Regions from separate parts of the Homo sapiens genome. Here region 1 is linked to region 2. The links come from fine-mapping of genetic effects on gene expression. A gene starts in region 2. The other region holds a variant in brackets. All regions are shown on one strand. Distances are between the middles of the regions.

Evidence for each region. PIP is the estimated chance that this variant, and not a neighbour inherited with it, causes the effect.
Region 1: its variant is fine-mapped to the expression of MCOLN2 in whole blood (TOPMed, PIP 0.95).

What each region holds. Positions count from the first base shown.
Region 1 is chr1:84,932,128-84,937,509 of GRCh38, forward strand. All of the region lies in intron 11 of MCOLN2 (mucolipin TRP cation channel 2), which reads right to left. Among named protein-coding and RNA genes, the nearest start is that of LPAR3, 42 kb to the left of the region's middle. The variant C/A (reference allele first, on the strand shown) is at 2,304.
Region 2 is chr1:84,993,881-84,999,230 of GRCh38, forward strand. It overlaps MCOLN2 (mucolipin TRP cation channel 2), which reads right to left and starts at 3,233. Exons shown (of 14, transcript NM_153259.4): 1 at 2,916-3,233. The coding sequence starts at 2,992. RefSeq lists enhancers at 1,716-1,775, 4,096-4,967 and silencers at 2,576-2,625, 3,236-3,525.

The sequences.
Region 1 (5,382 bases), 62 kb before region 2:
CCAGGATCTAACAAGTTTAGATCCTGGTTTTTCTCCTAATTAACATAAGCATCTTCTTATGTTTTCTACACTTAGAGAGCATTTGTAGGTTTTGTTTGTTTGTTTGAGACAGAGTCTTACTCTGCCACCCAGGCTGGAGTGCAGTGCAATCCCAGCTCACTGCAACCTCTGCCTCCAGTGTTCAAGCGATTCTCATGTGTCGGCCTCCCAAATAGATGGGATTACAGGTGCCTGCCACCAAGCCCGGCTAATTTTTGTATTTTTTTGTAGAGATGGGGTTTCACCATGTTGGCCAGGCTGGTCTCGAACTCCTGGCCTCAGGTGATCCGCCCACCTCAGCCTCCCAAAGTGCTTGGATTACAGGCATGAGCCACTGTGCTCAGCTGGCATTTGTTATATAACAGACCATTCCTTGAAAATGCCAACAAAACAAAACTTTTCACCACCCTAACCAGAAAAATGAACTTTTTTTTCTAAATTGCCCTATTTCTGTCAGTGATTCCAATCTCCTACCAAAGAAACATTTACTCTGAAATAATTAAGTCCTTAAAACTCTGTGTTGAATTGATTACTCTTCCCCGCTTTCAGTCTTCTAAGGCCTGTCTGTTCCTATCACATGTTTCTCCAATCCACCCTTACTACTCTACTGTGATGTCAACACAAATTTCTGAATTATTAAAGAAACTTCCAAGGAAGTCTCTTTTACTCCAATCTCTTTACCCTCCCCAGTCAAAGCTGCAGTAAAACCTGTACTTTAAGAAGAAGGCTTTCAGGTCATTTCTCCCTTGTGAGATTATACAAAGTTTGGATGCAAAATAAAAATCTAAACCAAGAAGGTTGTGATAAGTTCCTCCTTTATGCAGCCTCATCACATCTCCTCCTTGACAGTATTAATATGCTGTGCTTATCTTCTCCTCCAACACCAGGCCCATCCCTACATTTTTCCCTCATGGAATTTATTCTCCTCACCTGCTCTATTCTTCTTTCTCTTCTCTGTGTCCAATTAAGCCAATGTTCAAGGGTCATTTCAGAGTGTACTTCAAGACCAAGTGCCCTGGTAGTTCTAGTCCTTTCTCTGCACTCCGTATCGGTAAGAATCACAGAATGAACTATGGTCTTCTAATTGTTTTTATACACACTTCCCTGTACTCCAACTAGATACAAACACCGTGCCTTACACTACCAGCCACGTGGCTGGACCAGGCAAGGTAAAGTTGGTGGCCAAGGGAGAAGGTCTACAAACGCACCCCAAACAAGGATCCCACCCATGGCTTTGCTGCATCAGCAAAAACTCTGATGAACTAAAGTCCTCCTCCAAAAAGACCTAGAGGAAATATCCAAATGAACAGATCACTTAACAATATGTAGATTATTTAACAGTAAAACAGGCGATTGCCAGAGTAAATATTTTCCATACGCTACACAAGCCTTAAAACATTGAAGTTAAAGCTGAAAACATTGACATTAAAGTTGGTTTCTATGGATGTCAACTACAACTCTGACAGCACCATTAATAATTCACATTTCTTAGTTTCTTTTGGAATCCAGTCAACTCCTTTCTCTAGTTTCAAGAACCCCTAACTCCAAGCACAACTGTCTGTGCTTCAGGTTTCAACTGCAAATAGCTAGTTTGTCAGTACATGTCACATTCATTTTTTAATTTTCTGTTTAGTTACTTACCAGGCTACACACAATATCTGTCTCAACATTAACATTATTCATAACCATTTTACCTCCCCCTCCTCTTGTGAACATGAGAATTATTTTAACACACCAAAGAGTTAAAACAGAGACCCAGTCAATTTTAGGTGTTTGGTAACACCCTGCCATTTTGTACAAGAAGTGGCTGTGAACCAGAGTCTATTTCAGTGGCCAAATTCCATAGTAGAAGTGAGCTTAAAAATACTCAAGGTCCTAATGTGCTTCCAGTCTAGAAGGACCACATTTGTAAGGCATTCCTTTGGATCTTGAGTGATCATAAGCCCCTGGAAAGCAGGTACTACTCTCTCTCTGCTTCTTGTTTGTTCAAAACAAACTTTTTGGGCACCTACCATGGTCTATGTGCTGTGCTGGACACTGGGAATGTAAAGAGGAACAAACTACAGTTCCTTCCCTCCAAGAACTTGGTCTACAAGAACCTAGCAATGTTGGGTGCACAGTAGATATTTAATACGTATTAAATGGGTATTTCCATAAAGAGTCCCCATAGGTTCTCTGGGCCCACGATGAGAACTCAACCATTCATTTCACAAATGATAAGTTTGCAGTTGGGCCAAAAACCTTTAATTTCAATGAAACCATAA[C/A]CTGCAATGGCTTATGTCAGAGAACAACATAAATATTTGCTTTAAGAGCTGGTGCCAAGAATCTCATGCAAACTTTAGGCAAAATGTTTTAGCTGAGGGGTACTTGGCTAAAACCAGAGGGCTTGGAAGGAGGAAAATGTAATGCAGAGTCTGCTGAACTTTGACCCATGGCATCAGTGAAGTCCAACAACTTTTCAAGTCTTGGTCTTCTCATTTGTAAAATGGGGACAATGCAAGGCTATGATTTATTCCTCACAGGAAAAAAAGTCCTCTGGAAATGTAAAAGCCGCATTAGAGTAATGTTTAATAATTCAAGATGAGGTCTGGAAGAACATCAACAGTCTCTCACCCTCTGTGCCCAGGCATTTTGAAAGGGCACTGTGCCAAAGTCCATTAGTGCTGGGAATACACATCAGCAGGAAGCCTTTTGCATCTTGACTCCCTTTCCATTGAGCCCCTGAAATCAGATGCCTAACAGGAAGATAGGAAGCTGAAGTGTTATGGGACCCCAGCTATCAGTCAAACGGTTTTCCTAATGTCTCCTTTTTAGTTGTTTTGTTTTAAAGAAAGAATTAGCTTTCACAATCAAGGTTGCTGTGATTCTAAAAATCCCACAAAAATGCCCGCTTGGAATGCCTAGCTTTTCAAGGCTTCAGGTAACCTGAAAGTCCTCTGATTCAGATACTGGCAGAACCTGAACATGCTGACAGCTTGGATTAATTTGGGGGAAAGGATGCAAGGGGCAATAAAATATTCTAACTTCAGATTCAAAGAGGCAGCAATATGGTGAAGAAAAGCACAAAGTTCCAAAACCAGACTGACGTTCTCTCCCCCAACTGACTTGTACATTCAGTGAATTAACTCAGCTGTGTATTTCCCCAATATATCAGCCTGGTGAGAGATGCCATAAACAGACCTGCAGGCAACCCTACAGACATCCCTTATCCCTCCCCTCCTCCAGGGGTATAAAGGAAAGCTAACATTAAGTGAAAGACATAAGTCTAGAGCTGCAATGTCCATAGTGGTAGTCACCAGGAATGTGTGAATAGCCAGCATCCAATAGATAGCTAGTCCAAATTGAGACGTGCTATGTGGATAAAATATCCACCAGATCAAAAAGACTAGTATGGAGGAATGTAAAATATTTCAATATTTTATACTGAATACATGCTGAAATAATATTTTGGGTATATTAGGCTTAAAATATATAATTAAAAATAATTTCATCTGTTTTTTTATTTCTTCATGTAGCTACTAGAAAATTTTACAGTATAGGCAAGGCTCTCAATTGTAGCCCAAACTGTATTTTTCTTGGACAGTGCTGGCTCAGAGCATCCCAGTTTCACCTGGATCCTTTGAAAGGACAAATTGAACATATGGAAATGCAGTCAGGCTCACAAAACAAATAACCTCATTTTCCATGAGGTGACCTTGACACCATTGAAAGAATGAAGCCGATTACATGGCTGTCCTCTCACAGTTGATCTCCAAGTACAAGACTGTTTCTTGTCAGGCTAAATGCTCTCTTGCAATGATCTGTTTTAGATAATACCAAGAAAAGCTCTACAGGGTATGGGTCAAAGCACAGGTACTGGAGTCAGGCCGACCTGGGTTTGAATCCCATCTCTGCCACTTTCTAGCTGGGTAATCTCAGGAATATTATTTAATATATTAAGGTGCCTATTCTCTGTAACAGGACAATCAGATTTCTTCACAGAGAAGGGGAGGGAAGGGTTAACACAGCAAGGGAGATGAAGAATCTTGGGCACCATGCCTAACAGACAGCACTTGAGAATGGTAGCCATCTAGTAAAATTCTAGCAATCTTATCTGAGCACCTTCCAGAATAATGATGAGGTAGGGGAGACGGGGATGGGGTGCAAAGGAGATGGGACCACTTGTCCACAGACCTTGGAGTCAGTGAATTAAAGCCGAATCCTCAGGAACGGTATTTATTCCACACAGTGCAACACTGCCCTCTAGTGACAAAGAGGTGGAAAAGCTTTCAGAGCATGAGGCAAGCAAGGAAGAAAAATACATTTTTCCAGGCTCTAAGACAGTAAGTTCTCCAAATCAGAGAGATCATATCAAAGAATAATTTTTTCTCATGAGTCACCTTTAAAGCAGTGACATGGAGTATGAAGAGCAATATTATCAAGATTTACTACCAACCCAGAGGTTGTCACTTTGTTAATTATATAATATCTCAAATAGGAAAAACAGTAATTCTCTCTAGACATATTAAATGTGACACCTAAAAAGAAGAAAGTCTGAGTGTTCCAGGTTACTCGACATTATTCTGGTAGGACAGCACGGAGGTTTAAGATTCATGTATAACAGTTTGTAAACCAGATTTGATCACAGATTTGGTTAATGCAACTAACAAGGTCAAAACTTAAGGCTGAACTGGTATACAAACTTGGAAGGAATACTTACCATTTTTAACCTCTTTTCTCCTTGCAGAGCACCTAAGTGAGGCTAACAGTACCCTGGGTTGTTGTGGGGAGTAAATAAGAAAGAACACCGAAATGCCCAGCAGAGTGTCTAACACACAAGCAGTAAGTGTTAGCTGCTGCTATTTTTGTTGTTTCTGTTGTTCCAACTGCCACAGGCCCAAATGGAGGAAAAGCCATAAGATAAAATAACTCCTTTTACTTTTTTGGGTTAAAACCAAGGCTTACCTAGTTTCATTTCCTGATGCATCTACCAATCAAATGTATCATTTTATAACAAGAACATCTTAGCACAACTTTGATGTCCCTGAGATTATAATGCTAACTGAAGTTTGGTAATAGTTTAGAATTCAGATACTGATCTTTAATAAGGCAGAAAGATGATGCTGTAATCAAAACCGTCTGCAGAGACAAGACGTGTCACCATTTCTATCGTAAACCTACTATGGTCGTTTTAGGCAGTCTCTGCCCATCTTCATTCTTCTCAATTAACTTGGATGAAAAACATAATACTTTAAATTGGAAATTTTTTATAATAATTTTCCTCACTTAATTTTCATTTTTAATATAGTGATCTCACGTCCAAACATTTCCCATTTGATGATCACCGGGTAACCATGTGACCCC
Region 2 (5,350 bases):
CGGCCTCCCAAAGTGCTGGGATTACAGGTGTGAGCCACCGCGCCCGGCCAAATAATAAGTCTTGAAAGTTGAAATTACTCCTTGATCCATGGGCTGCAGAATGGATGTTGTGTTAACATATATGAAAACAACATTCATCTCCTTGTACATCTCCATCAGAACTTTTCAATGATCAGAGGTATTATCAATGAGCAGTAATATTTTGAAAGAAATCTTTTTTTCTGAGCAGTAGGTCTCAACCATGAGCTTAAAATATTCAGTAAATCATGCTGTAAACAAGTGTACTGTCATCTAGGCTTTGTTGTTCCATTTACAAAGCAGAGGCAGAGTAGATTAACATAATTCTTAAGTGCCCTAGGATTTTTGGAATGGTAAATGAGCACTGGCTTCAACTTAAAAGTCACCAGCTGTACTAGTTCCTAACTAGAGAGTCATCCTGTCCTTTGCACCTTTGAAATCAGATGCTGGCTTGTCCTCTCTACTAGGAAAGTCCTAGATGGCATCTCCTGCCAATAGAAGGCTGTTTTGTCTACATTGAAAATCTGTTGTTTAGAGTAGCCTCCTTCATCAATGATCTTAGCTACATCTTCCAACTAACTTGCTGCAGCTTCTATATCAGCACTTTCTGCTTCGCCTTGCACTTACATGTTATAGAGATGGCTTCCTTTCTTAAAGCTCATGAACCAACCTCTGCTAGCTTGAAACTTTTCTTCTGCAGCTTCATTACCTCTCTCAGCCTTCACAGAATTGAAGAGAGTTTGGGCCTGCTCTAGATTATGCTTTAGCTTTAGTGAATGTTGGTGCTGGTTTGATCTTCTATCCAGACCACAAAAACTTTCTCCATAACAGCAATAAGGCTGTTTTGCTTCCTTATCATTTGTATTTTCACTGGAGTAGCACTTATAATTTCCTTCAAGAACATCTCATATGCATTCAAAACTTGGCTAAATGGCACAAAATGCCTAGCTTTTGGTCTGTCTCAGCTTTCAACATACCTTCCTCACTAAGCTTAATCACTCCTACCTTTAAAGTAAGAGACCTGTGATTGTCCCTTGCACTCAAACACTTAGAGACCACTGTAGGGTTATTAGTTGGGCTAATTTCAATATTGTGGTGTCTCAGGGAATAGAGAGGGTTGGGGAGAGGAAAAGAGATAGAAGAATGGCTGGTCGGTGGAGTAGTCAGAACACATACAACATTTATTAATTGAGTTCCCTGTCTTATATGGGCACAGTTCATGGCACCCCAAAACAATTACAGTAGTCACATCAAAGATCAGTGGTCACAGATCACCATAACAGATATAATAATAATGATGAAAAAGTTTGAAATATTGAGAGAATTGCCACAATGTGACATAGAGACACAAAGTGAGCACATGCTGTTGGAAAAATGGCACCAATAGACTTGCTGGACACAGGGTTGCCACAAACCTTCAATTTGTAAAATAAAATAAAATTGAATTAAATGCAGTATCTACAAAGTGCAATAAAGCAAAGAACAATAAAACAAGGTATGCCTGCACTTTTTTCTATGAACCCCTTAACATGTGACACAAGAGCTCACTAAAGAGTGATTTAATTCTTCAGAACTGACACACGGAACTTAGACCCTAGGCCTTAAAGAAAACAGCCCAGCTTCAGGAAAGTCCACTTTTACTTTTACAGCCAGAAGAGTTTTCTTTGGCCACTACTTTTACTTTGAAAGCTATAGTCACAAGAAGCCATCTCTTTTTCCGCCGGTTTTAAAATTGTCTTGTTCTAGGTTTCACTTCACTGACAGAGACATAGCCAAAGAGATCAGCTTGTGAATATGATCATTCTTGACTTTCAGTTCTGTATTTCGTGCCCCTTTGCTCAAACTATGTCTCTCAGTTCTTCTCACTTGCTTCATTAAAATATTTTATATCTATTACTCTATTTTTTTAAAAAAAAACACTTTTGATATGTTCCTCCTTCACAGAAAAGAATGTGGCTACCTCAAACACTTTATTAGGATTCACTCATTTTTTATTACAGGAGGTTAAATAAAATTGGTATTATGATGGCCTCTGTATGGAAAATGTGTCGTTTTTAGAGTTCCGGCCACAGAAACTGACCTATGAACGGTTTTCTAAAGGAGAAGGGTGTGCCTGTGGAAAGTTCACGGCAACGGGAGTTTGACTCCTCTTAAGGTATGAAGAGGAAGACAGGCTAAAGTCTCAAGAAACTTCTGACTCAATAGGGGAAAGCTATCAAATTTCCCAAAAGTTGTGCGATTTTGGTTAGCACATCACAAAGGTGATGAGCAGCTCCTGAGAGTGAAACCCACATCCCATTTCTGGGGAGAACTACGTAGTTGGTTCCCTCTACATAAAATATCAGAGTCTACATCCTGACACCCATAAGAAACCTCTCCCACCTTTCTCTTACTAACCTTTTCTTCCATTCTCAGTTTACAATGACACACAATTTTGTTTCCCACAAGTACCGTTCAACCAGAGACACACACACTTACACATACGTATATATTTCATATATATATATATATATATATATATATATATATATATGTTTGGAGAGCAGGAAACGGGGGAGCCAAGGTCTGTTTGTACTCACAACTTTGGCTCAACTGTGCTGGGGTGGCTGGAGGTTTGACCACGGAGGAGGGGCCCGCTGGCAGCGCCAACCGGCTGAACTGTGCGCCTTTTCATAAAGGCCGAGGAACTGGGGTTAGCCACACTACAACCCTCCCACCTGAGGGAAAGGCCTGTTTGTTCTGGAAGGCACAGCCTAGCCTTATTTAACTAACTGCAAGCAGTTAATATAAGCATTCCCAAGGCAGCAAGCAAGCTCTAGTCTACGAAAGTAAAGCCATCGACTTTAGGAAGATTTCTCCAGTCCAGCATCCTGAAAGATGAAGCCCAGACTCCTCACCTGACGGTTAACCTGAAAACACCTGATCCTCTCTCCGGAATCCTTGCCTGGGGAAAACGATAAGGCTGCCGGGCCATGCCTCCTCCTTCAAAACTTTCCAGGGCTCTCGGGATTCGGAACAGGAAACACCGTTCACGGCCGACTCATTTCGCCCTCGCCGTAACGCGTCCGCCGAAGTTGGAGCCCTGCAAAGCGGGGTTCCCTTCTCTTACCCTTTCTGCCGGCCGCGTGGTGCGCGCAGACCCCGGCCCGAGAGCAGGCGCCGCAGTCGTGGAGTGCGGCGGGCAGTTCTCGGGCGGCTGAAAGGCGGCTCTGTGTGCACCCTGCAGGATGCGGCGCGTGGCCAGGCGCTCCCGCCCCGCCCCCAAGGGGCTGCCCCGCCCCGCCCCGCCCCGCCGCCTCCTACCGGGGACCGGAGCTTCCCCAGTTGGGGTCCTAGGGGACTTATTCCACGCTTCAGCGGACCAGCCTCCCCGCGCTCCCGGAGAAGGGGGTCGGCGACGCGGAGGCGGGGTGGGGGCCGTAGGGGATGGAACCGAGGCGCGCGCGAGAAGAGCCGAGGAAGTAAGCAGTCCCAAAAGGGGGCGGCGGTGGGGCCCCCAGGGAGGCGTGGGGCACGCCAAGGGCGCCGTGGGGCACTGACCTGTGGTGCGGCCCCCAGGACAGGCCCGAGGCGCGGTTGCACACCGGCAGGTCCAGCACCTCCATGCCTCGAGGCATGGCGCGGCCAGGGAGCGGCAGGAGGACACCTAGCGTGGGACGGCTACACCTGTCTGGGCGCAGGCCCGCCGCCCTTGCACTCTCCACCCAAGTGCCCAACGCTGCGGTACGGCCCGCTTTGGCTCGGGGTGTCTGCCGGAGAAGCGCCTTACAGAGGGACCCGGGCGGTGGGCCCTGCGGCAAAGTGGCCCACGCACCCTCCACACCGCTCCCGGGCGGCCGCACCTGGCACTCCCGGCCCTCTGGGGTTCCTGCCTTTTTCGGGGGGGTGGTGGTGAGACCGGGTCTCACTCTGTCGCCTGACCTGCGATCACTGCTGACTGCAGTCTTGAACTCCTGGACCCAAGCGATTCTCCTGCCTCCGCCTCCCAAAGTGCTAGGATTACAGGTGTAAGCCGCTGCGCCTGGCCCCTTCTTTTCTTCACTCTCTCATGCATTCATTTCTTGTTTCCACATGCATTAATTTGTCCGTTGCTTTGGTCATTCCTGTTTTGATGCTTAGGGAAACACTCACTGAGAGCCAAGCCGACCGTTGGGTACTGTGGTCTCTGGGATGACAAAGACATGGTCCTTTCCCTTGAGGACTTCACATTAAACTGACAAGTTCATTCATTCTGGCTTTTCTCTAAAGTGCACGATCATGAAAGTCTGTGACAAGGGCCATATTTCTGAGATGTTAGAAAGTGCGACCGGCGCGCAAGGAATAGGAAAAGCGAGTTGCCCTGCGCCCGCGTCGGGATGAAAGGCAGGGAGCCGGGAGGGAGCGTCAGCGTGGCCCGGCGGGCGCGGAGGGAGGGCGCACGGCCCCAGGGCTGGACTCGTAACCCCAGCGCCCTGCTGCAGCCGCCGTTGCTTTTCCCTCTTGGTGCACGAAAGGAAGACGCCTGTGGGAAATCGAACAGACAATCGGTCGCCGTTCGTGAATCTTAGAGATGAGAGTCGTCAGTACATGACCAAAAGCCGTGTTCGGCTCCTAGTGATGTTAGCTTGGTAGTTTGGACGTGGCCGACAGCCTCCTAGAGCTCGTACCCCTCCTTTTCACGAGGTAGCAGCAGCAAAGTCCGCAGTGCCAGGCTCTGTGAGTCTGCAAGCGTTTAAAAGATCTCCGGGTTTAGCTCAGGCAAAGAATATTCTGCCAGGTAATTATTTTAATATGCGTGTCCAGGCAGAAGCAGTTGGACAGACGATGTATATAAAAGCACACATAATTGACCCTCTTTTAAGGCACTTCCAAGGGGTTATTAGGCAGAAATGCCTTGGTTTTGAGCCCCTTTCATCGGAGGTGCGCAATCATCCAGCTTTGTGAATAGTAACTGCACTCCAGCCTGGGCAACATAGTAAGACCCCAACCTTTTGGCACCAGGGACTGGTTCCATGGAAGATGATATTTTCCACGGACAGGTGGGGGGATGAGGGGAGGATGTTTTCGGGATGAAACTGTTGCACCTTAGATCAGTAGGCATTAGAGTCTTATAAGGAGCACACAACCTGCAACTTAGATCCATCGCATGCGCAGTTCACAGTAGGGCTTCTGCCCCTATGAGAATCGAGTGGAACCGCTGCTCTCTTGCTCAATGTTCACTTCCTGCAGCGCGGCTTGGTTCTTAACAGGCCACAGACCTGTACCAGTCTGGAGCCCGGGGTTTGGGGACCCCTGCAGACGGAGAAATAGTTTCAAAAGGGAGATCTGAGGATCTCAAACATTAATGTGCATA